6 separate regions of the Homo sapiens genome follow, and all the other regions are reported to be linked to region 4. The links are microRNA targets in miRTarBase. Many come from high-throughput screens and were not tested one by one. Region 4 holds a microRNA gene; each other region holds the end of a gene's coding sequence. Distances are between the middles of the regions.
The links. The annotated mature microRNA hsa-miR-3140-3p reads AGCUUUUGGGAAUUCAGGUAGU and lies in region 4 at 2,089-2,110, shown strand. An mRNA with a match to its seed (bases 2 to 7 or 8) in the 3' UTR can be bound and repressed. Matches are read on the target gene's strand: a 7mer-m8 pairs with bases 2 to 8, a 7mer-A1 pairs with bases 2 to 7 and ends in A, and an 8mer does both.

Region 1 (5,112 bases), not on the chromosome of region 4:
CCCTGCCTCCACTCCCTCATCTGCTGAATCCAGTTTCAAACACAGGTGATTTTTAGCAGGAGTTGTTGATTAAAATGCTGACTCTCAGCACCTTGACACTCCAGATGAACTTTAGAATATATATGTATTTTCATCATAACGTGTTTCCCTTTAGGTTTTTTGTTTTGTCAGTAGTGGGAACCTTAAAAAGGATATACATAGAGGGAGATCTTCAGCCTTTTAAAAAAATCCAGTTCTTCACACTTGTCCCAAAAGGCAATAAAGGACTACCTAAAAGTGCCATTTCCCACAAGGGCCTGTGGATATCTAAGAAACCAGAACACTGGGGAGTAACAGTGAATCCTGGGAAAAGCTGATGAAATTGATATTTTCTTTTTTCCAAACAGATCAGAATGAAGGATTTCATTGCCGGGAAGAATGCCGGATTCTTGGCCACTCTGACAGGTGCTGGATGCCCCGGAACCCCATGCCCATCCGTTCCAAGTCCCCTGAGCATGTGAGGAACATCATCGCGCTGTCTATTGAAGCTACTGCTGCTGATGTCGAGGCTTATGACGACTGCGGCCCCACCAAACGGACTTTCGCAACCTTTGGGAAAGATGTCAGCGACCACCCGGCTGAGGAGAGGCCTACCCTGAAAGGCAAGAGGACTGTCGATGTGACCATCTGCAGCCCCAAGGTCAACAGCGTTATCCGGGAGGCAGGCAATGGCTGTGAGGCGATTAGCCCTGTCACCTCCCCCCTCCACCTCAAGAGCTCTCTGCCCACCAAGCCTTCCGTGTCTTACACCATTGCCCTGGCTCCCCCAGCCCGTGATCTGGAGCAGTATGTCAACAATGTCAACAATGGCCCTACTCGTCCCTCTGAAGCTGAGCCCCGTGGAGCTGATAGCGAGAAAGTCATGCATGAGGTCAGCCCCATTCTGAAGGAAGGTCGCAACAAAGAGTCCCCTGGTGTGAAGCGTCTGAAGGATATCGTTCTCTAAACCAGTCTCCAGGAAGAAGAGAAAGAAACCACACTGGCTAGTGAAGAAGCAGGAGCTTCTTGTTTTAATTGCTCACCAATGGTTGGTTCTTGAGTGGCTATATTTCAGAGCTTTTCCTAAATGTATTGTTTATAGGTGATTATCATTCTGTGACAGTCCCTTGTTTCAACAGGCAGCAGGGGTGTTCAGTTGGAGCAAATTAGCTTTGGCTTGAGTTGTTCATGGGGCCTTGATGTTGGGGAAACAGAGACAAATTCAGTTGTGAAAAGTATTATGTATTAAGTGTTTGAATTTATATATTTTTCTATGTCAAAATTATAATATAAATTACCATTGTTTGTGGAGGATTACATTTAAAAAAGCAAAAAGTGAAAAAAAAAAGCTCTGGACACCTTTAATAAGCTCGCCACTGTTTTTTGTAGTGTAGACAAGTTAATGGTCATTTATTGTGTACTATTCATTGATTCAGTGATGTGAAATTGAGCCCCCAAAAGGTTGTTTCTGAAGCTCGAGTACTTCCCAATGCCGCTACTTTGCTGTGGACACCCCTGCTTTAAAAACCCTTTTGCTAGCTGTGCTATTGTTGTATTTGATATTGCAAATTGCTATGTGTGTGGTGATGGCAAAAGGCTTTTAAAAGTTGGTGTTTTCTTTTTCTTAAAAAAATAATAAAACTACAGACAAAAACAAAGTGCAAACAACTGAGACAGCAAATGAATGAGCAACACCATGCATATAGATTGAGTACTTGGAGAATACTCACGTTTTTTAACTCATGTAGTGATTGCTCACCACTTTGCAAAGTATTTTTCCTGCCTTTCAGTGGTCTGCCCAGGTCCATGATAGATCATTGCAGAAAGTCATTTTTGGATAGGCTGCTATCTAATTTGCAGTTGTCAGAAATACTGTGCTGAAAGTTTTATGACATCCATCTTTTAAATTTTCAGGCCCTGAACAGGAAAGTTGCTCCTGAAGTTATGTTTCCAGGCTTAGAAATTCCCTCTCTCCAATCATCTAAAATTGAAGATGACTGAATCTATTTTAAGATCTAAATTAGCATCTCTTCAGACACACACTTCCTGATTCAGTGTTTCCCAATCATGATTAGAATTAGACTGCAAAGCACGTCATGGGCTGGGATTGAGAACTCCATGTTGCTCTGTATCTTAGGCTTATATACGTAGGGATAGAGTAAGCAGTACAAAGTGTATATTTTGGAAAAGACAGGTAACAGGTAACAGCATCGCTAATCCAATTACTGTGCCTTCTAAACGGAGACACTCAGACACTTGAACTCATCTTTTTATGACTAATAGTTTTTTGATTAAAAATGTGAACAAGAAAATACTAAAATAAAAATCCTTTCGATTTAGCCAACTCTTTTTGCTGTAGGCTAGGAATACACCCTTTTTAAATTAACACACTGTAGATCCTTTTTTTCTGTTTTAACATTCCTCTAACTCCCCCATTTATCTTTTGTCTATTAATATTCACTAGCCAACATAGTATTTTTGCAGCCTAAGAGTTCATTATTTAAAAATAAACTAAAGAAATATGTCACCTTTGTTCTGCCTTGGTCTTAAGAGAGTTGTTTCTAGAGAAACAAGTTTTATGGTTCTGTTTTCATTTGTTTCATTTTTTGAAATTCAGGAATACACAGAGAGAAGGCCTAGAGGTTAGAGCACTAGAATGCAAAAGAGGATTTATTTTCTTAAGTTTAGGTAGATAAGTCAGCTCTTTTGAATGTTTTACTTATTTTTGCCTGAGTTCCTAGCTTTACGCATTACTAGGAATATTTTCTTTTACAGGAGGGAGAAGGGTTTTGAGGGAGGGGGTGGGTAAGGCAGTAGGGATGGGGTTAGGTAGGGGAGAACATTTCTGAAAAAGAACTTATAATGAAGCTACAAATCCATCCTTATTTCTTATTCAGTGCTGAATACTACCTCATGCAAAATATTGGTGTGGCTGCAAATTTCCCTCTGAAGCTGACACAATTAAGGATGAATTACCATAACATCTTCATTTTTCCTCATTTCATTGCCTCTCATACAGTTTTCTCCCTCTGATTTATTTCATTTTGGTAGTGGATTTTGAATTAAGTATTTATTTCTCTTTGCAAGTGACTATTTGATTAACACATTAAAAATTTTTTAAAAATTTCCCCTTTAAGTTATGATGGCTGCCTATAGAATTTAGACTGTTTCTCACCCTGATCCATCCTGATATTATGTTATTAGCTACGATTTCAAGGTCACTTTGAAGTCAGACTTCACAGTTTTCTACAGGTGTATTTCTTGCTATGCTCAGTGGGAACCAGGGAGCAGAAAAGATTGTGGAAAGTGGGAACATTAATTGTCACGTGGCTGTTGAGCCAGAGAGGCCACTGGCTGCCATGCCTCTTACCAGCCAAGTTTTAAATGGTTAGAGTGGCATTGGCATTGATTTTGCTTTTCTCTTGGGTTTTCTTCATTTCTTTTCATAATTCATCTTCAAGCTATAGATCCATCCTTCTTCCCTATCCAAATACTTTGTTCTCAGTGGGCAGTCAGATTTTTTTGGCTTCCAAACCTCACTGAGCATGTTCAGAGAATTCCTCTCATTAAGGAAATATTTTTCCCCACAATTGTCTGATGTATGAGTCCTCTCAGAAGCACAAGTGCATACTAGGAAGGCTTTGTAAACTGGTTTTGTAGGCAGGCTGTACCTGCAAATAGGCATTCTGAGCAAGGATCCTAAATTTCCCTTTGGCTCATGTCCCCCCCGCCCCACCCCACCTTCTCCTTTTTGGCATGTCTGGTGAAAAGCTACAAGGTTCACAGGGCCAAATATTCTCCCTTTTGTTCTCTAAACATGTTGCACACATAAACTCAAGGGAGTGATTTCGGTTCCTAAGTCCTAGGGAGTTCTATTCCATTTATTCTGATGTCCCTTTTAAGGAGGAGTTGGTGTTGAAGTGTGACATGCTTTAATGATAACTGCTTTGGCAATTCCCCAGACAGGTATACTTCTTCATCCAAAATTGCACCTAAGGTGTTCATTTAGACAAAATTGTTCGCTTAGTGATCCACTGATCTCTAATCAGAAATATTTTTAAAAAATACAATTTAGATCTCTGAAAATTGGAACCACTCAAGAGTATCATCTTGATAGTGTTACTTCAGCATATGACTGACTGATTTTATGAAGGGAGTTTAGCTGACTTTTCCCTGTAGCCCTATCATATTAAAAACAAAAAGTGGTCCACTTGAAGCAGCAAGGACAAAGGGCAGTTTAGGGAGAGGCAGGGTGAAGGGGATAGCTCGATTGGGCATCCAGAGTGGAAAAGGATTATTATTGTACATAATAGCAGTTCTGGCTGGAATTCCAATCCACTTTCTGGGGATCATTTTGATGTTGAATGTTCCCCCAAAGCATTCTGACAAGTTTGGTCCACTTGGCTCTTTACCCCGGGTAATAAGACCCTTATTGACTTTGAAAAACTGGCATAAATGAGCTTAAGAAATCCATTGTATACAGTCCTAGTGTTTGCCTTCTTGGTAAAATTACATTTAAGGATGTCATTTCATGAGTCAAATTGTATCTGCTGACACTGAAGTGTATTGAGATGTTGTTCTTTAGTTTAAGTATGTAACAAAGTAATATTCAAAGGGGATGTTTGGGGGTGGGGCTGGGACCGGGTGGCTTTATATTGATAATGAAATATTCCAGAGCAAAACACATTGTCCTAATGAAGTTGTTGCAGCTCTCTTCGTTTTCTTGTGCCGCTGGAATTGGCTTGTGGGTCACTTGTTGTGCAAAAGTGAATTAATTTCAAATAGGAATCATATTGCTTTTGTGAAACAAAGAAAATTTACCACCTTGTCTGATACATAGATTGGAAGGCGCTCTTGGTAAAGAATAACCCACAAACACCTGATCTTGATTGGAAAGCATTGTAGGTCATTAGGGAAAACTGATGATGCTGACTGTTGCTCCAGCTGTGTTGGCAATTCAAGATGACCTTGTTACTAACTGAAAGTTGCTGTCAACCTTAGCAAACAAACCAGCTAACACCATTACAGCACTGGTTAAGTAGATTTTTACTGGCACTGGCTGGCGTTCAGCTGAGGAAGGCTAGGATACAGACT
Region 2 (5,112 bases), not on the chromosome of region 4:
CATGTCGGTCAGGCTGGTCTCGAACTCCGACCTCAGGTTACTGGCCCCCCTCAGCCTCCCAAAGTGGTGAGATTACAGGCCTGAGCCACCGTGCCCGGTCGTAATTACACTTTTATGCACAAAAAGTATAATTTTAAAAATCCTTATCCTTGAGAGTTGAGGCCCTTTTTCAAACCCATATTTAAGGAAGAACAAATATTTTACTCACTGGAGTTTTCTTTTTACCGATTTTTTAAAGCATTCATCAGGCAAAAGCTCCACTTGCTGTGAATGGCAAAGGGTACAGTTCTTAAAGGCTACCCTGGGCATAAGAATCACTCTGTAATACCTTTGTGATTGCTTTCTGCACTTGCCAAACCCAAACCTTTCAACTGGTCCATGAAAATCTACTCAACATTCTCTAATTCTTCTATTCCTACGTCAAATGTTTCATGGAAAATTATATGCCAAGTCTTTTCCAGTCTTTCCTTTTTTCCTCTGGTGGGTGGGAGGAGTTGAGGGGGTAGATATGAAAGAGACAGGAACTCCATTCTGCCAAAAGGAAGAGATAAATCATTTGAATTCCCCCTACTCAGATATTTTACATCTGCAGATAACGCAAACTGAGACACTTATAATAGGCAACAAGACTTTTTGTCACTGCCAGTCTAGATAATTTAAACAAAAGTAACTATGGTTCAATAGCTTCTTTCTTCCTAATTTCAGATGTTAAACAATACAAAGAAAGATGCTTTAGAATGTTTTTAAAATGTTATATTAATGTGAACATCACTTGAAATTTTTGTAATAGCTGCCTATTTTCACCTCCTCTAAATCAAGTTTATTTCTATTCTATGACTAAAAGTTACTTTCAATATAATGGTTAAAGTCACTAATTTTAGCCTTTTAGTTATTCACACATGCAAACATGCTTTCCCAGGTACGTCCCCTTACCTCCTCCACTTACCTCTGATGTAGCATTTTTCAATCTTCAAAGAGGTCAGAGATTTTTGAGCCAGAGGAAAAAAGTATCCCAGTATTGTGTGTAGTTGGCCAATTAGTCCAAGGTTAGAGAGCATGTTAAATATTGAGCTTAGCCGGCCGCGGTGGCTCACGCCTGTAATCCTAGCACTTTGGGAGGCTGAGGCGGGTGGATCATCTGAGGTCGGGAGTTCGAGACCAGCCTGACCAACATGGAGAAACCCTCTCTACTAAAAATACAAAATTAGCCGGGCGTGGTGGCGCATGCCTGTAATCCCAGTTACTTGGGAGGCTGAGGCAGGAGAATCGCTTGAACCCGGGAGGTGGAGGCTGCGGTGAGCCAAGATCGCTCCATTGCACTCCAGCTGGGCAACAAGAGTGAAACTCCGTCTCAAAAGAAAGAAAAAATCGAGTTTAGATTAATCCTCGAGTTTCTGGTTCACTTTAGTTGGCTACCCTCTTTGATGGTTCTAAAATTAATACAGTTAATAAACTCACTCAATTGTATAATGGTCAAAGTTTGTGGGTGGAGGAAAAAAATGAAGTGCACTGAGAGACATTCATTCCATCAAAGGCACTATGCAGTGCCTGGTATTTTCTTCCTCCATTACATATGGAGATAGCTGTTATCATATTCTTCTTCCGCAACTCAGAAGAAACTAGATAAAACACCAGAGACAACCCTTACGTTCGCTGTCTGGGACTCCGGCCCTGAAGCGGGCAATGAGGTTTGCACATACAAGTCCACGAAGAAGGAAAGGCAAAAATACTCTCTCTACTCTCCAGCCCTCATCCTCAAGGCTAGTATAAAACAAGAAAAGGTCAGTTAAATGTATTTTCATCCTTCTTTTATTTGTTAAAAATAATATGCCTAAAAGTCTGCAGATGAGCTAATATGTCCTTGAAAGGGGGCATGTTACATACAGGTCTCTTTAGCATTTCTAATTCTGTGAAAGCCACCTTAAATCTTTTGGGAGACAAAACAGTTTGTTGGAAGAAAACAGCCTCTGATGTAGCTATAAATCGCTATTCTATTTTCTTATGTATTTATAAAATCATACCAGAAATAATGAGTTGTTTTGTCAATAATAGAACACTGACATGAACTTGACCTAACAACTAGCATAAACTGTCAATTCATCTTGCATTAACAAGAAAATGAAACAAGAAATAACTATTAGAAAGAAATGACAAAATTCAAATTGACTTTGAAAAAATCTGATTTTATTTTCTCAATCAAAATGAAGTATTTCATGTTAATTTAGACTGTTTAGCTTTCCACTGATATCTCAAGATACTTTCCAGATATTAACAGTACTCAGAACTGTGTAAAAGTTAACCACCAAAACCATGTTTTAAAGAAAAAAGTTTAAATGTAAGACTAATGTCTTGGGGACTTTACTAAATGTATTTCTAAAAAAACCCTTCTCAAATGTAGAAGTATTGGCAATTCTAATTTAAAAATTTTAAATTTTTAATTATTGGAAATTTAAGTAGCAATAGTTTCAAGAGCTAAGAATCAGATTGCTTTTTAAAACAGAATTTTTTTTTTTTCCTGAGGGACTCATACTTGACAACTCCAGTTAAACATAATACTCCACCCAAATCCCAAATTTAAATGCATTATGTCACCCTGGAATAGTAAAATTATAAAATGGTATTTCTAAATTATAATATATATACATAATGCACCATTTTAACTGTCACATTTACCAGCAGAATTATGAAATCAAAAACAAATTCTACATTCAAGGGACAAACGATAAATGCTCTTTCATTGTTTTAAGAGTCCATTCCATTCTTTGTTGTTTTCTACTCCCATATTTTAAAATTATGACCAAAGGAGCCTGAAGGCCAAGTCAATCCCATTTCCCTGAACCCAACTGCCAGTAGGTACGGGCCCTACATACGCGTCCTTTAACAAGCCCCGTTCTCAAAAGGCTGGGGGTATTTATATAAGAACTTATTCCAAAGTGACTCTAAGATCCATGTTCCCAAGATCTAGTACGGGCTATTCAGGGTTCTGAGGCATGTCCAGCATGCAGGCAAACTTATCTGTTCAAATTGAGGTAAAACAGACAAAAAACACTTAATATTAACAGAAGCTACATAATTAAAACTAACCTTCTGCTGCTTATTTAAGCTAATGATGTATTCTTACCAAACAGAGACCCTCAAGTCAATCATTTCTTTTGATTTTAGTTACCACCCCCAAATTAAGCCTCTTCTTTCAAAGCTATTATTAGTTAAAAAAAAGTTTTAAAATGAAGAAAAATATTTTTTCCAGAACTTGTATTTTGTAATTAGTGTGATGCAATTTCTTTTTATTTTTCAAACTTAGAAATAACTCATGTATGGTACTATTTGGTATTTTTTTCAGATACCAAGGAATACCGACAGGATTCATAAATAGGATTTTCTGACACTGGCAGGAAAGTCTGCTAACGTTTACAAAATACCAAAGACTCTTCTTTCAAGCTTCAAAGATGGCTGAGAATTAACAGTTATGATTAGTTTTTCAGTACAAATAAAAAAATTAAATCTTGATTTTTTTGGCCAACATTTTAAACAGTCAAATTTTACTGTATTTCCAGGTTTCAAATCAAAACAAACAAAACAACTAATGAAAATTACCCAATTGGCAACAAGTCCTGTATTCCAATGTTATTTTTAAACCACCAATTATAACCTACTGCCAGTAATTATTTGTAAGTACCTGCTTGTTTTATTAAGCACTGGTCAGTTATATAAAAGAATAATTTGCAAGAATGATACTTGGCAATGGGTTACCTTAATGCTTCTGGAATAAACAGAAGCATTAACAAAACACCAGATCTTAAGCTCTTTTAAATCTGTAATTCGAATTACCCAAAGGATTTTTAAATGTTACTTTTCCATTGAAGGACTGTAGGGAGTCTAATCCCAGCTAACATGGTTGATTTTAAAAAACAAATAAATCCCTAAGCCACATAGTAATGGAATACTACACTTGCTTTTTATATCATATGGAAACAGCTCCAGGCAGAGCACAAGTAGAAGAAAACCTGCCAAATCAAAGTACTGTAAATAAAGTTCCTCTACGTACTCCAGTTGACAAAACCTCAAAAATAAAAATCAGAAGACCACCCATTGTTACCCTCCCCCCCGCAACAAAACCCACCCAAAACACTTTAGTTCTGAACCTAACATTTCCCTAAGAAGTTCACAGGAGAAGCTTTAAGGTACTTAAAGCTGCAGCAGTACAGTTGAAAGCGCCACATTACAGAGGAAATGCCCTAAAGGGTTCAGCAGCTGCCCACCCATCCCGAACCACCCCCCATCCCAGTAATATGTAAAAGCTCCTGTTAAAGTTTTTTTTGTTTTATGCTAATAAAGGCATACCACCTAGTGTGCTAAAGACTACGACTAGCAGCATTAGAGCAGTAAAGTGAAAATAGGAAGCCTATAGGAATGATCTAAATGCCTACTTAGAAGAAACAAAGCAGCAGACAGAATCCTTAGCCCTCTAGTCTATGTAGGGAAGCAGTTGAATTAAACTCAGATTTACCCACATTAACAAAAATTTAACAAAGCTTCCCCAAGACACCAGAATAAAACTTGACCTTTCCAGTCAAAGGGCAGAGAGAGGCCTCTTCCATGTCCTGGAGTTGAATGAGTTCAAAGATTGGCAATAAAGGAAAAAAGAAAGCATTACGGGTATGACGGGAACAAGCTTTGGAGTTTATCGAACAGTCACACCAAGTTTCTCTAGCACACGGACACCCTTTTCTTGGTACTCTTGTCGGGTCATCCAAAAGTTGTCTTTGTCTTTCATGATATCCGCTAGAACTGCACCACCCAGGAATACCATGTGCTTTCTGCGGGGTGGGTCTTCAATGCGGATCTTAAATTTCTAAAGGAGAAAGAAAGGATAATGAAATGGTACATGTGCACAGTGCTTTCTGCTTTATGAAAATGGCTTTTTAAATATATGCTCTCCCTCAAACTTGCAACAGTCCTGTAATATAAGTAGAACGTAATATTTGGTACCTGAGGTACAGAAACATTTAGTAATTTGCCCAAAGCTCATGTTTAGGAGACCACACATCCATCCCAGCATGCTTGGAACAGTCCTGATTTACACGTGGTGTCCCATCATTATTAATACCACCC
Region 3 (5,112 bases), not on the chromosome of region 4:
AAAATCAGTTTTATAAGACTAAACAAAACTAATAATACTACACAGTGTTCATGAGGATGTGGGGAAACCAACAATCTCGCATGAAGCTGTTGGAAGAAAATAAATTGGTAGAGGCTTTCTGGATAGCAGCTCTAATATATATCCAAAACCTTAGAAATGTACTTATTTTCAGGGGAGCTAAGCTATGAAGACACAAAGGCATAAGAATGGTACAACGGAATTTGAGGACTTAGGGAAAAGGGTGGGAGAGGGGTGAGAGGTAAAAGACTACACATTGGGTACCGTGTACACTAAAGAACTTATTCATGTACCCAAACCCCACCTGTTCCCCAAAAACTTATTGAAAAAATAAATTAAAAAATATATATATATGTATATGAGATGTACTTGTTTTTTGGTCTAGCAATCTAGAACAATCCTTCTAGAATTTGTTCTAGGGAAATAAGAATGCACACAAAGGTTTAGTTACAGTGATGTTCATGACAGCATTCCTTACAAGAATAAAAAGAGTGGAAGCAATCTAAATGTGCCATATAGGTCATTGCTACAATGAAATACAGTATAGCCATTAAAAATTGTGAGGAAAGATGGAAGGGAAAATGCTCATGATGTATGATAAGAATCACGATGGATGTACGTGTGCACTTTTCCTTCTGCCTTCAGGTCCAAGATGGCCGCTGGCATCAGACACTCTTCACCTTCCGGACCCAAGACCCCCAACAGCTGCCCATCATCAGTGTGGACAACCTCCCTCCTGCCTCATCAGGGAAGCAGTACCGCCTGGAAGTTGGACCTGCGTGCTTCCTCTGACCTCTGACCTCGTGGCCACTCTAGGCCTCACGGAGGAGGGAAGAGGAAGAGGCAAGGGGAGGGTACTGAGGGGCAGATGGCTCCAGGAGAGGCAGCTCCCCTGCCCAAGGGTCCTTGGGCAGACCCCAGCTGTTGTCTGCCCAGTAGAAGTGGGTGGGGGTAGGAGGGGATAGGGTGTCCTTGGGAACAATGGATCCCAGCTTAGCCCCAAAGACCAACCAAAGAGCCAGCCAGAGTAAGCTGGACCTGCAACCTGCCTGAGCCCCGTGGCCTCTCAGCTCTGCGGCCACCCCGTTCCCTCCCCAGCTTCCTGCCCAAAGAGCCCCACATTCAAGCCAACTTGAGGGAAGGGGGCGTCTCGTCAGCTGGTCCCTGCTAGGGAGCTATTGATGTGCAATATTAGAAAGGAGACATGAAAAAAGGAGAAAAGGAAAGACAGAAGTGTATATATATATTATTTAAACAAACAAAAAGAAGGTGCGTTACTATTTTTTTTTCACCCGGGAAAGAGGTGAGAGGATGGGAAGGAGCAGCCAGGCGTGGGAAGCGGCGAGATCCTCGGGCTGGGGGTGCCCACGTTTGCTACCTCCCACTGTGAAATCGCTGGTGCTCACAATTGTCTCTCACAGTGTATGTGATTTTTTTAAGGAAAAAAAAAAATCCCTATTTAAGATTCTGAAGGTGCTACCATTATTTTGCCACAGACTTTGAAGAAACTTTTGGATGTGGGGCATCATCCGCATCTTTCTCTCTCCTCCAAATGACAAAGTTTGGGGAATTTTTGAATTTTCCTAGCATCGCCCTTGTGCTCATCAGGTAATCTGCTAAGGAGGAAAAAAGAAAAGAAAAAAGGAAAAAAAAAAAAAAAAAGCAAAACAAAAACAAAAACAAAAACCCTACCAGAAACCAGAAGTAGAGAGATTTACCATATAACTTATGGACTTTGAAATGTCTGTCCTTTTAAGGCAGCAGGGAGGCCTGGGTGCGAAGCATGTTGGCTTGGCCCTTCACGGTCCTGGAGGGAGGTGAGGCTGGCCTTGGAAGGCGTGCCCTGGAGAGGTCTTGGGTGAAAACTTGACCTTGAAGAAACCAATCACAAAAGCGGCGTTGGGTCAGGGCTAGGCTTAGAGGTGAAGCATCAACATGGAACCATCTCAGGAAGCCGCATCGCCTCTTCCGAGGTCCTCACTTCCAGGAGCCTGTCCTTGCAAGATGCAATCATCGTTCCTGCTTTTTCATTGTCATTAAATTCTGTAGAAACCCATTGTCATTAGCTCCAAGTGTAAATTTGGGTCAAGGAGACAGAATAATAATGGGAATCTCGGAGTTCGACACCATAGTGACGTTCAGCGTCCTCTGAATTGTGCTACATCAGCGAACAAGTCGGCGCTTGAATTGGATTTTGAGGTTATTTTAACCATGGAATTATTTTTATAGAAGGGGAAAATGTATGTGAAAGTCTCTATTTGTGTATTTCTCTCCTAAAGTTGTGTCTCTTTGGGAATTGGATTTGATTTTTATTATTTAATACCTCACTTTGGCCCGTCCCCCCTCCCAACACTTCTGTATCCTCGCCCTGCCGCCCCAGCCTGGACGCTCTGCGTGGAAGTGCGTGTTTGTAGCAGCTCGGGCCTCATCTCAGCGCTCGGATCCCTCCTGCTGCCAGAATCCACTGGCCTCTGTCTCATTCTTGGGTTTTCCTGCTGTCTTCGTTTACGTCTCTGTCCACATGTCAGTGTATTAAAACCCCAATGGGTTCCGTTTCTCCTTTTCCCCTCTGGATTTTAAATAAATATTTAAAACTGAGGCAATGGAATGACACGCCTGTGGTCCCGTGCTGCTTCTCAAAGCTCAGGGGGGCAGTTTCTGGCTGGGCTGGGATAGGGAGTGGGAGGAGATGCTCAGAGGATGTCCTCCTTACGCTGTAACAAATACCACAAACTTGGTGGCTGCAAACAACACAGAACCGTCTCTCTCGCAGTTCTGGAGGCCAGAAGTTCACACAGGCAGTGTTGGCAGGGCCACACTCCCTCCAAAGCCTCAAGGGGAGGATCTTTCCTTGCCTCTTCCCGCTCCTGGTAGCCCCAGTCATTCCTTGGCTTGCAGCTGCAGCACTTCGGTCTGTGTCCCTGTGGTGACACGTGTTCTGATGTGTCTCTCTGCTCCATCTTCTCTTTATGAGGACCCCAGTCATATTGGATTAGAGCCCACACTCATGACCCCACCTTAACTTACTTTCATCTGCAAAGGCCTTATCTCCAAATGAGGTCACATTCACTGGTGCAGGGGGTTAGGACATATCTTTTGGGGGGACACGATTCAACTCCTAACACACAGGGAGGAGGTACACTGAGGTTAACATGAGCAATTTGTTTTTATTATTATTGTGGTTAATTACACATAACATAAAATTTGCCACTGGTGATAGTACATTCAGAATGGTGTGCAACGTTACCATGATCTAATTTCGTATTATTTTCATCACCCCTAAAGGAAACCTGTACCCATTTTAGCAGTCCCACCCTCCCCCAACCCCTGGAAAATCACCAGCCTGCTTTCTGTGTCCACGGCTCTGCCTACTCCAGACATTTTATATTACATTGGTGCCAAAGTAATTGCGGTTTTTGTCATTACTTCTAAATGGCAAAAACCGCAATTACTTTGGCACCGACCTAATACAAGTGGAATCATACAGTATGTGGCCTTTTGTGACCCCGGCCTCTTTCACTCAGCGTGATGTTTTCAAGATTCATCTGTGTCGTAACGTGTATCAGTACTTCATTCTTTTTATGGTTGAATGTACTCCATTGCATGGATAAACCACATTTTGTTTACCTACTCATAAGCTGATGGATATTTGAGCCAAACTGGTGGACATTTGGGCTGTTTCTACCTTTGGCTATTGTGAATAATGCTTCAAAAGGAGTGATCCCTGCCTGTCACATTCTTGAGAGAAGTCACAATAGTACCTGCCACGGAAGAAGTGAGTGGGTGTGAGTCTGGGAGATGGCGTTGCCAGACTTAAAAAATAAAACTATAGGATGCCCAGATCAATTTGAATTTCAGATAAACAATAGCTATTTTTTAGTACAAGTATGCTCCATGCAATTTTGAGGAAATGCTTATGCTAGAAATCTTTTTATTTGTTATTTATCTGAAATTTATACGTATCTGAGTATCCTGGCCTGGAGCCCACATTTCCTGACCCTTGTTTCAGATCTCTTTCTTCCTCAGCTTATTCCTCCTTCCCTGGGACAATGAATAATCAGAACTTTTCTGCCATTCTCATTGAGGAGAAAGAGCACATCACTAACAGTTGAGTTTATACCCAGGATTTTATATTTTAAAAACTTGCAGCCGGGCGCGGTGGCTCACGCCTGTAATCCCAGCACTTTGGGAGGCCGAGGTGGGCGGATCACGAGGTCAGGAGATCGAGACCATCCTGGCTAACACAGTGAAACCCCGCCTCTACTAAAAATAGAAAAAAAATTAGCTGGGTGTGGTGGCGGGTGCCTGTAGTCCCAGCTACCCAGGAGGCTGAGGCAGGAGAATGGTGTGAACCTGGGAGGCGGAGCTTGCAGTGAGCTGAGATGGCGCCACTGCACTCCATATTAAGGGATTTATTATATGAAATTGGCTCATGCAATGATGGAAGCTGACAAATCTTAAGATTGGCTGCTGGCAGCTTTGAGACCCAGGAAAACCCAACGGTTCAGTTCAAGTCCAAAGGCAGGGAAAAAACCTGTCCCAGCTTGAAGGCAGTCAGGCAGAAGGAATTCGCTCGTACTCAGCCTGTTTGTTCTATTCAGGCCTTCAACTGATTGGATGAAGCCCAGCCACATTGGGGAGGGCCATCTGCTTTACTCAGTCTCCCATGGGATTACCCAAATGTTAATCCCATCCAAAAACACCTTCACAGACACACCCAGAATAGTGTTTGGCCAAATATCTGGGCACCCTGTGGCCCAGTCAAGGTGATACATAAAATTAACCATCACACTCCTCAAGCTGAGGTTGAAAGAGAAGGAATAGAAGTGAGCCAGATGGGGAAGGGCACTTGGGGTAGAGGGAACAGTGCCTGCCAAGGCCCAGAGGTAAAGGTAGCACTTTGCATTTGGGAACGGTAAGTGTTCCCATGTGGGGCTGCAGGAAAGGGTGAGGAAGCCTGCGGTATGGAGCTGGGAACATGACAAGTCACAGGTTTGCACAGATGAGCAGAGGTCTGAGTTGGCAAGTTGGGTTTGACTGCCATGGGGCCCTGGAGCAGAGCCATCCAGGAGGCAGCTGCCTGCGCTGCGAGGA
Region 4 (5,112 bases):
TTTTATCTTAATTATGATTTATTTGCTTAACTATTATCAACCTCTACACTAGACTAAGCCTAAGTTTTTGGAGGGAAAGATATATCTATTCTTGCTGTTTTAATGTCTAGAATAATAATACATTTATTGAATGATTATGTTGGTGTAGTTTTTTAAAAAAATTGAAGGATACCCAAATTGAAGAGCTATTCTATTACTGCTTATGTTGTAAGGTCAGTATGTTATAAAATGTATGAATGTGAGAGAATGACTGAGAAATGATAATGGTTTCTTTCTGATTTTATTGGCATCTGATAAAAACAAGGGGCAATAAAACTGTGTTATTAGATCTGGAACTATATCCGGAAAGTCCTGTCAGTTGGTTCTCAAATGCCCTTGAGCTTTATTATGCTTCTTCCTTATTAATGTATTAAGCCGTGTGAGTGAAAGACCCCTTTCCTCTTTACAAAGAATATTCTAAATCACCTCTTTTTTCTCTCTTCTCTAATGTGCTTCTTCCTTTGACTATTAGTTTTGGTATTTATCAGGGACAGCGATCTTTAAGAGCTTGTTGTTTTGTTATTTTTTGTACTGCTTGCTGTATGTTTTAAATTTTGATATATCTTACTGCCAAATGAAGGTGTGAGCTCATAAGTAATAAAGATAGAAAAAATCTGCTTTGCTTATAATTATACCATTAAACATGTTGTCCTTAATGCAGATACACACTATTGGTATTGTAGGTGCAGGATTATGTTTTGATTTTTGCCAGTTCATATTTCCATGGAGTATTTAGGCAATTTTAACAACATAGATTTCTGTAATGAATGTTTTTTTAACTTATGCTGCTGCTTGAGAGACAGAGTCAGACTGCCAGGGTTTGAGTCCTATGCCCAATATTTCCTAGCTCTGTGACTTTTGAGTTATCTGCTTTTTGCCTGTTTCTTCCTCATTAAAACAGAGATACTAAGTGTACCTTATAGTGTTGTTGGGAGGGCTATTTGAGGTAGTATATGTAATGCCTGGTACTTATTAAATGTTAGATCTTTTTTACTTTCTTGGGTTCTAGGGAGTCCAATAAGTAACAAATTTTTCCTCTAAGGTTTTTTTCTTTATTGGTGGCAAAATATACATAGTATAAAATTTACATTTCAACCATTTTTAAATATACAATTCAGTGGCATCAAGTACATTCACAATATTTTGCAACCATCCATCTCTGTCCATTTCCAGAAGTTTTTCATCATCGCAAATAAAAACTTGATACCCATTAAACAATAACTCCCATCTTTCCTCCCCTGATTTCCTGGTAACGTATGTTATACTCTGTCTTTATGATTATGACTATTCTAGGTACCTCATAAATAGAATCATACAGTGTTTGTCTTATTGTCCTCTCATTTCATTTGGCATAATATTTTCAAAGTTAATTCATGTTGTAGCGACTTCTAGTTCCATTTTTTGTGGTTGAAGAAAGTACTTCCCTAATAGAAATGAAAACATGTTTGCAAGGCTTTTTTTAAAGAATGCTTATGGATTTAGTCATAATAGGTAACAACTGAAAACATTGGTATGGCTGGGTCAAGTTGGACTAATTCACTGTAGCCCAGGGTCATGTAAGAACATGGAGTTTTCAAGGTAGGCATGGGGGTGGTATTGAGGGGAGGGTAGTAAGCATAAAAGACAGTGCTCAGAAGAAGATAAGGGTGCCAGGTTTCAGTTCCAGGGATGTTCACAGTAAGGATTACAGTGGGCTAAATTTTAAGATTAATTTTATAAATTCTAAACACATCCTGTTGACTTTAACTGCAACTCTTAAAATGTATCAATAACATGACTTTATAATTCCTGGAAACTGATATTTTCCCAATACTTTGAAGAGGTTTAAAAATAGTTGACTAATATTAGAACCAATATTTCATGTATTGATTTTTCTCTTTAAGTGACAGTTAGTTTAGAAAATGCTAAACTTAAGTTAGCAGTATAGAGTAGGTATATAGTTATACTGAGTATGAATGTCTTGGTAGGCTTGGAAGCCTACCATTTATGTCCTCTTGAGGTACCTGAATTACCAAAAGCTTTATGTATTCTGAAGTTATTGAAAATAAGAGCTTTTGGGAATTCAGGTAGTTCAGGAGTGACTTTTCTAAAAAACAGAACTGAGCACCATACACTACTTCTTATAGCCTTTTAATTACTGCCAATTGCCTAGAATAAAGTTCAAATTCGAGGGCAACACAAACATGGCCCTTTGTGAACTGACAGACATTTCCTAATAATTCCTTACATACATGATACCCTTGAGCCTTACAGAATTAAGAATTTCTGAATTTACCTTGGTGTTTGATGCATCTGTGTTTCTATACGTGCTGTTTATTTACCTAAAATAGACTATTCTCTATTTAGCCTCAAAAGTCTCATGGAAGGTTTTAAAAAATCCTGTCTAAGCTCTGTTAATTATATTCTTTATACTATTATATTTAGTAGTTAATATTATAAACTACCTTACAGTAATTTTTACAGATACCTGGCTTACTCCCTAAATTGAGTTGCTTGAGGGCAGGAATTGTGTATTAATCTTTGCTGTATTTTCTTTGCCTTGCTTACTGTAGTTGATTGGTGCTAATTGAATAAATGAACATTTATGCTTTTCTTTTTGAGAATATTATATGGGTAGTTCCTTTAGTTGTTTAATAGAAGATAGCACAGACTTCTATACAGATTGGTTTTTATGGGAAAACACAAGAGAATAATTAATTAAAACATAATTTCATCTAGAAATTTCTGCAGTTGGAGCGAATATTTTTTAAGTTATTAACTTACCTAGAGTGGAAGATTGAATTTTTGAATGATAGTGTTTTAGTTATTAAAGTAAATGGCATGTAAGAGAACTTTTAAGTTCATGTGGCAAAACAGGGAAAAATTGCAAAGTTAGAGTCTGTAAGGTTTCTGATGTTTCATAGACTAACAAAAGGTTGCTTTATTAGCAGCATTAATGAACGAATCGCTTTATTGGCCTAGGCATACTGGTAGCATTGTCGTTCCAAAGAGCTGAGAGTTCTTATTTCAATTCATGATTATGTTAGACAAGTGAAGTGAAAGCCGTTGACCTTCTCTTAAGGAGAAAATAGAAAGTTTTTACAAATAGATTATAGATTAAAGCCTTTTAAGGAACATGATGAAGAACTAAATTACTGCTAAATCACTTGAAAAATTTATATTTTTTTATGCACCAGTCTTATAACAGTAGGTTTTTTATAGACCTATTAATTGATATTTAAAATAATAACTTTAATAGGATGATTTTGTAGAGTTAGTCAAAGTGATTGACAAAAGCAAATTATTAAAATAGTCAAACTTTCAATTCTCCAAAGAATGTTCAGTTTTAAAAGCAATATGAGATACAGGAAGTATTAAACTGGAGATGTAATGCCACTTGGATGGCATACTTTTAACATTATTTTTTATTTGTTTAAATGGAATGCATTTTGCTTATTAGAATCATTTTGGAAGTGCCAATTTGCTTCTGTTAATTTACATTAAAGATTAAAATAGGAACCACTGGTGACCTTCTAAATCAAAGTTCTTCAAAACGGTTGTTTTAAACAGCAAGAATTACAGAACTAAGTATTGTATAGCTATTAAAACTGAAAATTATGTAGCAGCAGTCCATTTTAAATTTAACAATTTTAAATGATACTTCAAAATATAAAAAATACAAGGAAGAATATAAGATGCTTATGTATCTGTACTGCCAAAATTTAACAAATGTTAACTTTTTGCTATCACTGTTTCAGAACTTTTTAAAATAAATTAAAAATATAATTGAAGATTACTAATCTCATTCTTTTGCCTCTCTTCTCAGAGGTAATTACTTTTCTAAAGGTATCCTGTAAGTTTTCAATACTTTTTACCACATATTTGTATAAAAAGATAAACAGTACTGATTTCCTTTTAAAATGTGAATAATAATATACTGTTGGCATAACTTTTTAACTTGCTTTTTTCACTCAGTGTTTATTTACATCAAGATTTATTCATGTTGATATTTGTATGTACTTAAAGTTTGTTTATTTTATCCTCTGAATTATTAGTTTGGTCCATTATTTATGATGTTTAGTTTGATTACTTGGTTAAGGTGGTGTGACCTGATTTCTCTATTGTAAAAGTATCCTTTTCCCCTTGATAATTAATCATTAATCTGTGGGGTAATGCCTTGAGACTGAGTAAACATTGTTTCTCAACAGCCTTTCACCCAGTGTTTTTAACATCCATTATTGATTTATGCCTGAATTATTGGTTACATTGATGCTTGCAAAATGATTTTCTACATCTATTATTCTTTCCACATTTATTAGCTGGCATTCTTCTTTCTGTAAAGGAGTTTCTGTCCTTTCACTAAGGGCTCATGGTTTCTTCATTAATTCGGTGAACTAAAATCCATTATTGTTATGTAGTCATGCACTGCATATACGACATTGATCCCATGAGATTATAATGGAGCTGAAAAATTTCTATCGCATAGTGACGTTGTAGCTGTTATAACATGTTAGGACTAACGTCACAACCAACATATTACATGTTTGTAGTGATGTTAGTGTAAGTCAAATCTACTGTGCTGCCAGTCTAAAAGTATAGCACATATAATTGTGTACAGTACATAATACTTGATAATAATAATAAACAGCTATGTTAACGGTTTATGTATTTACTATGCTATACTTTTTGTTGTTATTTTGAATGTACTTCTACTTATTAAAAAAAAAAGTTAACTGCAAAACAGCCTCAGGCAGTTCCTTCAGGACGTACTCCAGAGACATTGTTATTATAGGAGATGACAGCTCTGTGCATGTTATTGTCCCTGAAGACCTTCCAGTGAGACAGTATGTGGAGGTGGAAGACAGTGATACTGATGATCCTGACCCTGTGTAGGGCTAGTCTAATGTGTTTGTTTGTGTCTTAGGTTTTAGCAAAACAGTTTTAAAAGTAAAACAGGAATTTTTTAAAATAGAAAAGGCTTGTAAAATAAAGATAAAAGGAAAGAAAATATTTTTGTGCAGCTGTACAATATGTTAGTTTTACGCTAAATGTTATTACAAAAGTCAGAAAAGTTTAAAAACTAAAAAGTTTATA
Region 5 (5,112 bases), not on the chromosome of region 4:
TATGTCCATGAGACCCTATAAGAGTGTAAGACTGGGACCTAACCCCTTCCTCCTGGATGGGTGGAGAGCAACCAGTCCCCAGTGACAGGCAGGAGAGAAGCTGCCGCTCTGGGATGCTGACGCCACTGCATCCGCTGTGGCTCGGCTCTCAGGACAAAAGGCTTGGGTTTTTCCTGGGCCCGAAGCCCTCCCAATGTCACTGAGAAGCTGTGGTGGCTCCAGTTGCTCCTGGAAGAGGCCTTACACTTTGAAGGGAAGGAACAGACAATTTCTATTTCTCCTTGCCCTTAGATTTCTGCGGATGGGTGGTTTCAGCTCCCTGAGCCTGGGGGCTGGTGGCTCTCTTTAACCTGGGTCAGAGCCAAGGCCCCTTGGCCTCTGTGGGGTCTGAGAGATGGGAGATGTGACACCAGGCCTAGGAGGGTCCAAGATGTCCCCCTCCACCAATCACTGACAATATCCAGGTCTTCCCTCTGTGTCCTGGTTGCTGGGACCACTATTTTTGGGCATGATATTCCTGAATTGTATCTAAATTTCCCTCTCAGCTGGGTCATCAAAGCCAAATTGGCTGTATCTCATTCTGGTTGACATCTGCCTAAGTGAGAAGCAGGGCAAGCGATGAAGACTGGTGGGGAGGGCTCCTCCTGCAGCAAACTTTCTGTGTGACCTTGGGCCATCCCTGCAGTGGCAGGGCCACACACATCCAGCCATTTTCAACTTACAGAGCCCTGACCGCTGACTTTCATCTCATCTGGGCCTCATAACAATTCCTGCGTCAGGCAGGGAAGGGATTACAATCCCATTTTACAGTTAGGGAAATTGAGCCCCAGAGGTTGAGTAGCTTGCCCAAGCCCCCCAGGTGGTTGGTGACAGGCAGGACTGAGAGGCGGCATTGGGGACTTCCAGGACAGAGTTCCTTTCACTGCACCATGTAGGAACCAGCTTGTCAGGAACTCTCCCACAGAACCAACAGCCAGGTGAACCCACTCTAGCAGGTCTGAGCTTTGAGGCTGAGGAGAGGTGCAGCCAAATAACTCAGTCCTTATCTTCATGGGGACTGAACTCTTCCCCTGGGTGGAATGCTGAGGAGGTCCCGCTGGCTCTCTGCTCGGTGGGTTTTCACCGGGGCATGCTTTTCCTTCCTGCCCGGACCGGTGTCCACACGCCACCCACAGGGCACACTGCAAAGTCCCAGTGACGGATGGCTTGGCCAGTGCAGGCCCCAAACACTTGGCAGAGAAACCGCCAGTACTGTGGGATGGTGCCTGGGGCCTAGTGAGGCTCCCCCACCCCTAGTTTCACTTCAAGGTATCACCTGGGCAGGCTGACTCCAGAAAGGAAAGGGGCCCTGCAGAGAAGCACTGGCTCGGCCATGTTTGGGGGCTGGGAGGTGGTGCCTGGAGTTGACCAGAAGCTTGGAAACATGACCTGCGGCTTCCTCTCCAGGAAGAGGCTGAAGGAAACACTTTGGCCTGTGTGTCCCTCGAGGCTGCAGCGTATGGCCGTGCAGCAGGGCACCTCTGGCCAAGGGGCAAGGGGTGCTAAAATCCAACCTGTGTGTCACTCCCAAAGCTGTGCGTTCTAGTGTAGGTCTGAATCCACCTGGAAAGGGCACCGTCTTCTAATTCACATCAAGGCACCATAGGGACCAGCAGCCACCAGGAGCCCTGAAGGCAACTGCCCTCTATTACTTATCCCTACAACGTTTCCCTGACCATGGGCTTCCTGAGGACAGGGGCTGGGACTGACCCATCTCTGTGGCTCCAGTACTTGGCATAGAGCTGAGTCATCAGCAAAGGATGGTAGGCTGAATTCAACTAAATTTGGCCATTGCCTTGTGCAGTCCTGGCTCCAGGAGAAAAAAAAAAAAAAAAGATAGTGCTCTGATCCTTCCCTGCAGCTGGAGAAATTTGCTAAATAACACTGGGCTAAACCCAAAAGGGTGAGCGTGATGTTGAGGTGCAGGAGGCTCGGGAAACCAGCCTGACAAACGTTTTCCATGCATGAGTTAGGGATAGGGGAAGAAGTCTGCAGGAAAGAGGTCATCCCAAACACTAAAGGATCTTGTGTCAGCCCCAAAGGTTTCAGAAGACACTGGAGGGCATATGTTTGCCATGCATTGCTCCAGCATTTCATCAGCTCTGCGCCTGCCCAGATGAGGTGCAGCCTGCCCAGCAAGCTCTAGGAGGGGCTGGATGCCTGGGGGACCTGCAACTAGGCCCTCAAGACTGGACAGGGTAGTACGACAGCCCCCAGCTGACTTGGTTCTGGTCTGGGGAGGGGTCCCTTGGGTTGAGTGGTCATGAGACTCAGAAGTCGCGCTGCCAGGCTTGTGAAACAGGTGATTTCACCACAGGAAATAAGTCACACTGCCTGCCCCAGGAGGTGCTGGACTGGAAAGGATTGAGATGCCACTTGTATAAGATTTTTTGTCTCCCTTTTCAGACAAGTATGGGAGAGAGATGGAAGGGAGCAGAAACTGAGGAGAGAGCCCTTGTCCTGCTAATCAATATATTTGCCTGGGTAAACCTCAGGGTGTCTGTGCCCACAGGGGGCTGTGAGGTACTGCAAGCCCTATCATAAGCCCCTCAGCCAAGCCTCAGCAAAGATATGCTCTGTCCCTCCTTGGGCAACTCATGCTACCTATGGCCACAGCCTGACATCAATCCCTTCCCAGTCTTGGGCACAGGGTGGGGTTGAGGGCAGTTGGTGCTCCATAGGGCCCTGCCACCTCTGAGGTCCAATAAATCCCCTCTGGAGGCAGAGAGACCAGTCAGCAGCTCTGGCTCTACCCACCAGACCAGGAGCTCTAATGTTCACAAATTCTTGGTGGCCAGAGCTAGGAAGGCCCATTGTGATCATCTGGTCAAACTCCTTGCTTTCCCAAGTGAGAAACTGAGGCCCAGAGTGGGGAAGGAACTTGCCCAAAGTCACACAGTAAGTTATTCTCAAAGGCCAGGCAAAGAGGATAACTCCTAACACTTTCTATCTCATCTCCCATCTGGCTTCTTGCCCCAGGAACTGCCCCAGGTCTCAATCAACCCAACACCAGCTAATGCGTACTGGGTACCCATGACACTGGGAGCTATTGGAGGTCATCAACTCACCAAGAAAAGAAGGGGCTTATTTGCTACCCAGCAGCCTCCTTCCCTTCGGGTGAGGATATCTCAGTGGATGCTGCCACCTTCTGAGATAGGACCCCCTTTGACTGTGGCATGGTGGCCTCAGGCACTCTCTCCCAGTCCATAGGGTCAGTCCAGCCCTGGAGAATGGCAGGGGGAAGCAGGAGGATACTAGTGGCCTCGGCCCCCGCTGGACACCCATCCTCACTTCCTGCATGACCATGTGAAGTCCACAAGGAAGGGACATAAGGCAGACTCTCCTCTCCCCGCCCCCTGCCCCCATCTCTGAGCGCCCCCCTTCGGGAACCCTCCTCAGGAGCTTCAGCTCACTCTGCTGGGGGCTGGTGCTTGCTGAAGACCCCCTCCCTCCCTCCCTCTGCTTTTCTCTCTGTGCATATCTCTAGACAGGGCCATGCACTTGAAATACAAGGTAGCTAAGATGTCACAGCCTGACAGTACTGAAATATACTTGGGTGAGTCCACACAGCTTGCCTCAGTCTAGGTAACTGCTGGTAAGAAAGTCAGTCCAGTTGCTTTTCTCTACTCCTGGGGTCTACGAACTTTCACCAACATCACTATCAGACACAGAGGGACATCAGGTGGGGAGGAGGGTGAAGGCAGAAGGTCTTTGGTGGGTCAGAACTTCAAAAAGGCATTGAGAATCTGTCCACAGTTCTGCCCCTCCCAGCCAGAAGGAGGTGGCCTTCAACGCGGTCATCTTTTAGCTGCCAGAACTTTGTTAACCACCTGGGACCGTGGACATCTTCTCTCGTGTCTTGAGCCCTCATCCCCACCCCTCCAAGCCCTCATGCCCACCACACCGTGTCCCACATTCCCCATCCTCCCCTGTCTGCTCCCCATCTCAAGTCCAATTCCAAGGCCAGAGCCCTGGCAGCTTTTCTGGGAGACAGCATGAAAAGGAGGGGAGTGGAGATGGCAGAGATGGGGTGGAGCCAGTGCGCTGTGGTCCTGTTGGCGTGGTGATGTGGGGCCAATCCTGAGGCCAGAGGTTCATCACCGTGATCTGGAAGCCCACGGGGCCCCCTGGTAGAAACTGGAAGAACAAAGGGGAAAAGAAACCAGAACAGGAAGAAGACGAGTAAGCATCCGAGTGCACGAGAGTGGAGCCGGAGCCACGTGGAGGCAGGGCCGGCCCGTCTATCTGTTGTTGAGCTGTGGAGAGCCGGTACCATCCTCCTCTTCCTCCTTGTCATCCTTCATGCCTTTCAGTCTCTGGCGAGCAAAGTCCTCAAATACAATGTCGTCATCACTGGTGGGAGAGACAAGGAAAATGTGGTGTGTTTGCAGGGGCAGGGAGAGTAGGCTTATCCAGAGGCCCGGCCAGATGTGACTCAGAGTATGGCTCTGGGGCCGGGGAGAACCACCCTCTCTGAGGTCTCTGGCCTCTGGGGCTGACCATGAGCAGAAAGGCCTGTCTGGCTGGCACATGTGGATGCCACCTGTGGCAGTGGGGACAGTCACATCAGGACTCGGGCCAGTCATGAAAGGGGCAGAGAGGGGCATGAATTTGACTCTTGTGCCTGAGGGCTAGAAAAGTAACCTGGTTCTTTAGGAGGTGGGGGGAGCAGTGTGGCTCTGTAGCCAGAGGAAGGACTTATTCCCACTGTGAGAGGCCAGGCCACCAGTAGTTTCACAGCATGTTCTGAATCCCCCAAGAATAGGCCCGGCAAACCCCACCCCACCACCCAGAAAACTACCCTTAGGAAGCATTCCCGTTTCTGGACAGCAAGGAGTAGTTTGGCTTAATGAAAGAGAAGACCATGAAGAACCTTTCTCCCAGAAGTGTCAGCTCAGATTCTACCTTGGGGGATCCCAGACAGAAGAAGGCTGGGGTAGGAGGATGTGAATCTAAATAGGGGGGCAGAGGACCTGTTCGTGAGGAAAGGGGAGGCTTGAGTGGGGTTTCAGGACTAGACTGCCTTTAAGAACAGCGAGTTCCCTTCTACCATGAAACATGTCCATTTAGGAC
Region 6 (5,000 bases), 130 Mb from region 4:
CTGCTCTCCAACTCCTGGCCTCAAGGGATCCTCCCACCTCGGCCTCCCAAAGTGCTGAGATTACAGGCATGAACTACCATGCCCGATCAGAGTTTTTTCAATTTTTTTGTTCTTTCTTAGCTTCCATGGCTTCTTAAATTCCTTCAGCATGTTTTAAAACATTAGATTACTGTTTTCCTTTGCTTTAGAGAGATGTTTCTGGGATATCTTCATTTCTGTGGGTATGTTATGCAGATTGTAAACCTTTTTTTCTTCAAGCATATTGTAAGATGTAGTCTTACATCTTGTAAGATGTTTAAATCAGATGGATTTTTCTATATGTTTCCTCCTGTATTTTTAGAAGATTCCTGTGTAGGAGGTGAGGGTGGGCTAGGACAGTTTCTGAGCTTCGTGGCTCTAGGGCTCTCTCTTCTGTCGTTATTAGAGTATTAGATAAGATGGTTTTGTGTGTTCCTACCTCTTCAGTACTTTCTGAATTCGGTCTCATTCATTTGGTCCCCTCTTCTCTCATTATCTGAACCACTCTCCTTTACCCCTGGGGTCCTTCCCTCGTCTGTGCATGTTCTATTCCCAGTACTTTTTCTTGGTATAGCCCTATGTCCTCTCACTGGTTATTTTTGAAAACTACGAAGACCAGATTGCCTTAGTACCCTCACACCTTTCTGCAGGCCTTTTTGCTAGCTACCAGGTGAATGCTGGGCAGCCTTCTCCTAATTTTGATTGTGGTTTTTGGTTCTACCAATTGAAACTCCCACCGCTATTGGGGATCCTTCTTGTGGGGGCTTGGTACATGGTGGCAAATTCTGGGTTCTTTGGCTCTTAGGACCATCACAAATCCCCCTTCCCTTCTCTCTGCTTGATCCTCCGAAGCTGCTATTGCCACGTGATCTTGTTGGTATTGATTTTATTTATTTTAAGAGATGAGGTCTCACTATGTTGCCCAGGCTAGTCTCAAACTATCCGAGCTCAAGGGATCCTCCCGCCTTGGCCTCCAAAAGTGCTGGAATTACAGGCATGAGCCACCATGCCTGGCCATGTATTGATGGTTTTAACCCAAACTATTCATATTCTGGAATTCAAAAAGATAACCTTTCACCTAGCTTTAGTGAAGAAATGTTACGGTATGCCTCCTATTTAAAAGTGATTGGTATTTTTCTTTTTACATCATAATGTCTGGGATAGGAGAGACGAAGCTAGAGTAACAATTACATTCAAAACTGCAGTGACTCAACATGGAACTTCTTTCTTGCTCATGTCACCATCAAGTGCAGTCAGGAGGCTCTCCTGGTGGCTTTCCCCAGCAGTGCCTCCTGTGCCCTGGCTGCTTCCATTTTGCAAATTCTTCGTTCATAGCTGAATGGAAAGACAAGAGAGTGGTCAATCGTGACAGTTTTACTGCCAGGCCTGGAAGTTGCATATATCACTTGTCTCCACATCTCACTGGCCAGAACTCAGTCACAAGGCCCCAAACTAATTGCATGAGAGACTTGGAAACATAGCACAGCACTAAGAATCTCTGCTACAACTCTGTACAGTTGCCCAAGCAAGTTGGTGAAAGAAGGCAGACTATAAAACCTAGGATGCTGCCTGTCTATTCAAACAGCTGTACAAGGATTTAAGATGTAATTTGATCAAAGAACGTGGCACCGTCATTTTTAAAAAAGGTTTTAATTCCATATAGTACAGTACTTCAATTTTTTTGTTTGTTTGTTTGTTTGTTTGTTTGAGACAGAATCTACTCTGTCACCCAGGCTGGAAGGCAGTGGTGTGATCTCGGCTCACTGCAACCTCCACCCTCCCTCCTGGGTTCAATAATTCTTGTGCCTCAGCCTCTTGAGTAGCTGGGATTACAGGTGTGTGTCACCACGCCTGGGCAATTTTTGTATTTTTAGTAGAGATGGGGTTTTGCCATGTTGGCCAGGCTGGTCTCGAACTCCTGACCTCAGGTGATCTGCCCACCTCGGCTGCCCAAAGTATTTCAAATTTTTGAAAAGTTTTGTGAATCAAATTATCTTCAAGTATGCAAAAACCATGTCTCCACAAACAGTCTTCAATTGCTGACAAATTTTGGGGTGATAAGGTGGTGGCATATTTAATTAAGTACAATTAAGATGTCTTTAATTATAAAGGTTTCAGTTAAATATCTTTTGGAATTATAAAGAATTAGGCTAGGCGTGGTGGCTCACGCCTGTAATCCCACCACTTTGGGAGACCGAGGCAGGCAAATCATTTGAGGTCAGGAGTTCAAGACCAGCCTGGCTAACATAGTGAAACTCCATCTCTACTAAAAATACAAAAATTAGCCGGGCATGGTGGCACACGCCTGTAGTCCCAGCTACTCGGGAGGCTGAGGCAGGAGAATCGCTTGAACCTGGGAGATGAAGGTTGTGGTGAGCTGAGATCATGCCACTGCACTCCAGCTTGGGCAACACAGTGAGACTCCGTCTCAAAAAAAAAAAAAAAAAAAAAGAATTAAACTATACCTTTAATATATGAAGAAAATGATAGTTTGGCATCATTTATAGTAAATGTGTTCATAAACATTCTAAATATTCCAAACACGTACATACAGAAGAACATAATCTTAAGACAATGATTTTTATTACCTTTAGTCTACCACATTTGTCACTATAAATATACTTATTGAAAAAAAACCATACTATTTAAATAAGAATTCAGTTCATGAAAGTTTACAAAATACAACCAATGTACTCTGACTTGTGGTTATATCTTAACTATCTCAACTGTACTTTTCTGGTATGGCCAGACCTTTTGCAAATATTACCATGGTATTTTAATTTTATGATATAAAACAGTAGCAATTTATTAAGTTTTCCATTATAAAAATTAATATGGCAATTCTCAAAATACTGAAAAAACTGTTTTATGAAAGCAGTACCCACATCACTGCAACGTATTTCCTTTCTCTTAGAAAACATCTTCAAAAGGCACATTTTAATTACTAGTGTTTATATCTAAAGATAGTAGTTTGAGTTTTGAATTTCCAGTCAATTTTCCATTATCTCAAAATTGAGCTAATGGAGGGTTGGAAGAGGTAGGAGAACGCAGGTTTCCAATGAACTCCCTCAGGGCAGCAGAATCCTCATTCATCTCGTCCATGAAGACCAAAAGGAAGATATAAGGGAAAAAGGAATGGCAGATCTGTTTTGCATCCTAATTTAACCTTCTACACAAAATACTTCATTAAAAGCAAATAAACAAACACAAGATAGTAAGCTTAGAAAACAAAAGGCCTAGACCACAAATTACCCAGTTAAGCCCAAGTGGTGACATTGGTTTTAAGCCTCAAGAAAATGAAACTTCTGCTTCTGTAAAATCACATCTTCATCAATTGAATTTAAATCACTTAGTGCATTAACAATGTTACAAATTCCAATAATGTCAGACATATGGATGATATTCAAAATAAAGTACAAAAATACATTTCAAAATCAAATATAAATGACTTTATGGTTATCTGCCATGCTCCCCTTTAATTTGGCCTGATAGTCTACATTTGACTGTAATTATAATAACATCTGTAATTTCAAGTACAATAGTACAATCATAATAATTTTGAAGAACGTATGACCTAGGACCCCAAAATGCAATCCAATATACAATTTGGAGTATGGTTTACTTTTTAGTGAAGTTTAATACTAATTGAAGTACTAAATTGAACAAGGCCAGTACTCTGAAGTACTAATCTCAAGTATTTGATCCCATGTAAGAAACAGAAGGGAATTTTTAAGGCAATTTTGGTATTCCAAAATATTGGGGATCTACCTTAATTTTCTATTATTCCCCTCAAGTCTCAATTGAATATTTCCATTTTTTAAAAAAAGGGGAAATTTCTTAGGTTTTTTCCTCACTACAACAAAGTAATTCACCAAAAATATTCTCAAGTACAAAAACCAAAATGGTCCTCTATTACTTAGCCAAGATATAATTTTCTGGTCCCTAATAATGGTCACTTTAGGAGTACTTATTCAAATTCTAAAATAGCAGCTTTTGAAATTAAGGCAACATTGCTTTATTCTTACCTGTTTTTCTATTAGCTAACTATTTTATTAAAGTTCGTAAGAGCAATTTCAGACGTAGGCATCCTCAAAGGCCTTTTGTAATGTAAGAAGAATTAGCATGAACATTCTTCTCAATATTAAAAGTTATTGTATTCTACTTGGAATTCTAGAGTAATTACAGTCATTCCAGCATGTGTAAAATTACCTTTTAAACTAACAACAACATAAAATACAAATTTTCTACAAAAATACAATATAGGAGATATAGCACTTCTTCCCTGAAATAGAAATTTAATATTTGGACAAAAAACTGTAAACTTTTGGTTACATTCAAAATACAACCTTTTAAAGACTTAAATTGAGGTTTTAGCAACTGGAGCTCCTAACAGCAGATTTATATTACTATGATGTTTTAAAAACATGATAATTCTAAACAGTTTGTTTCTCTTACTCTGACATTTACTACCAGGAGGAAAAAAATGGCTTCCTGCAATTGACAGTCTGGGTAAAGGAATTGCTCAGGTGGACAATCCGACCCTGACTTCCACCTTGACTGCGTTCCACAATCACACAAGGTATCTGTACTAGCTGGAAAGGACTCTTCCCGTCTCTCAATGCCTGAGTAAGGTTTAAGATCTGTGGGAAGAAGAGAGATTTTTACCAATTTAAAAAGATAAAAAGCTTCACTTCACTGACATTTTTTAAACCATTTATTCATTATAATTTTTATTTCATCCATTTATGAGCAACAGAGACTGTGAAGATAAGTACCTGTTATAAATATGTATTATATGAATGTATGTTTACACACACACGCGCACACACACACGCGCACACACACACACACACAATTAGCATTAAATAACTTTTGCCAGATGGTAAGTTTAAAATATTCTAGAATATCCTGCCTATGTCCAGGAGCAATGGAATCAAAGAACGGTAAGTGAAGAGGTCTACATACATATTCAATTTAACATA

Region 1: the mRNA of PCDH19 is a reported target of hsa-miR-3140-3p. Seed matches in the 3' UTR shown: 7mer-A1 at 1,343-1,349.
Region 2: the mRNA of ACTR2 is a reported target of hsa-miR-3140-3p. Seed matches in the 3' UTR shown: 7mer-A1 at 3,951-3,957 and 7mer-A1 at 2,486-2,492.
Region 3: the mRNA of COL27A1 is a reported target of hsa-miR-3140-3p. Seed matches in the 3' UTR shown: 7mer-A1 at 1,677-1,683 and 7mer-m8 at 1,907-1,913.
Region 5: miRTarBase lists ARRB1 as a target of hsa-miR-3140-3p. Seed matches in the 3' UTR shown: 7mer-A1 at 3,654-3,660, 7mer-A1 at 3,500-3,506 and 7mer-A1 at 1,131-1,137.
Region 6: miRTarBase lists PI4K2B as a target of hsa-miR-3140-3p. Seed matches in the 3' UTR shown: 7mer-m8 at 4,008-4,014.

The regions. Positions count from the first base shown.
Region 1 is chrX:100,292,150-100,297,261 of GRCh38, reverse strand. It overlaps PCDH19 (protocadherin 19), which reads left to right. Exons shown (of 6, transcript NM_001184880.2): 6 at 387-5,112. The coding sequence ends at 985. Among named protein-coding and RNA genes, the nearest start is that of PCDH19, 120 kb to the left of the region's middle. RefSeq lists enhancers at 158-707, 708-1,259.
Region 2 is chr2:65,268,304-65,273,415 of GRCh38, reverse strand. It overlaps ACTR2 (actin related protein 2), which reads right to left. Exons shown (of 9, transcript NM_005722.4): 9 at 2,163-4,852. The coding sequence ends at 4,682. Among named protein-coding and RNA genes, the nearest start is that of ACTR2, 43 kb to the right of the region's middle.
Region 3 is chr9:114,309,886-114,314,997 of GRCh38, forward strand. COL27A1 (collagen type XXVII alpha 1 chain) reads left to right here. Exons shown (of 61, transcript NM_032888.4): 61 at 664-2,626. The coding sequence ends at 810. All of the region lies in intron 1 of LOC105376224 (a long non-coding RNA gene), which reads right to left. Among named protein-coding and RNA genes, the nearest start is that of ORM1, 11 kb to the right of the region's middle.
Region 4 is chr4:152,486,334-152,491,445 of GRCh38, reverse strand. It overlaps MIR3140 (microRNA 3140), which reads left to right and starts at 2,030; the gene lies at 2,030-2,119. The region is part of intron 2 of FBXW7 (F-box and WD repeat domain containing 7); the gene reads left to right.
Region 5 is chr11:75,261,883-75,266,994 of GRCh38, forward strand. ARRB1 (arrestin beta 1) reads right to left here. Exons shown (of 16, transcript NM_004041.5): 16 at 1-4,392. The coding sequence ends at 4,281. Among named protein-coding and RNA genes, the nearest start is that of TPBGL, 24 kb to the left of the region's middle. RefSeq lists enhancers at 1-476, 835-1,766, 3,801-4,302, 4,303-4,802 and a silencer at 4,123-4,212.
Region 6 is chr4:25,276,672-25,281,671 of GRCh38, reverse strand. PI4K2B (phosphatidylinositol 4-kinase type 2 beta) reads right to left here. Exons shown (of 10, transcript NM_018323.4): 10 at 2,468-4,658. The coding sequence ends at 4,485. Among named protein-coding and RNA genes, the nearest start is that of ZCCHC4, 34 kb to the left of the region's middle.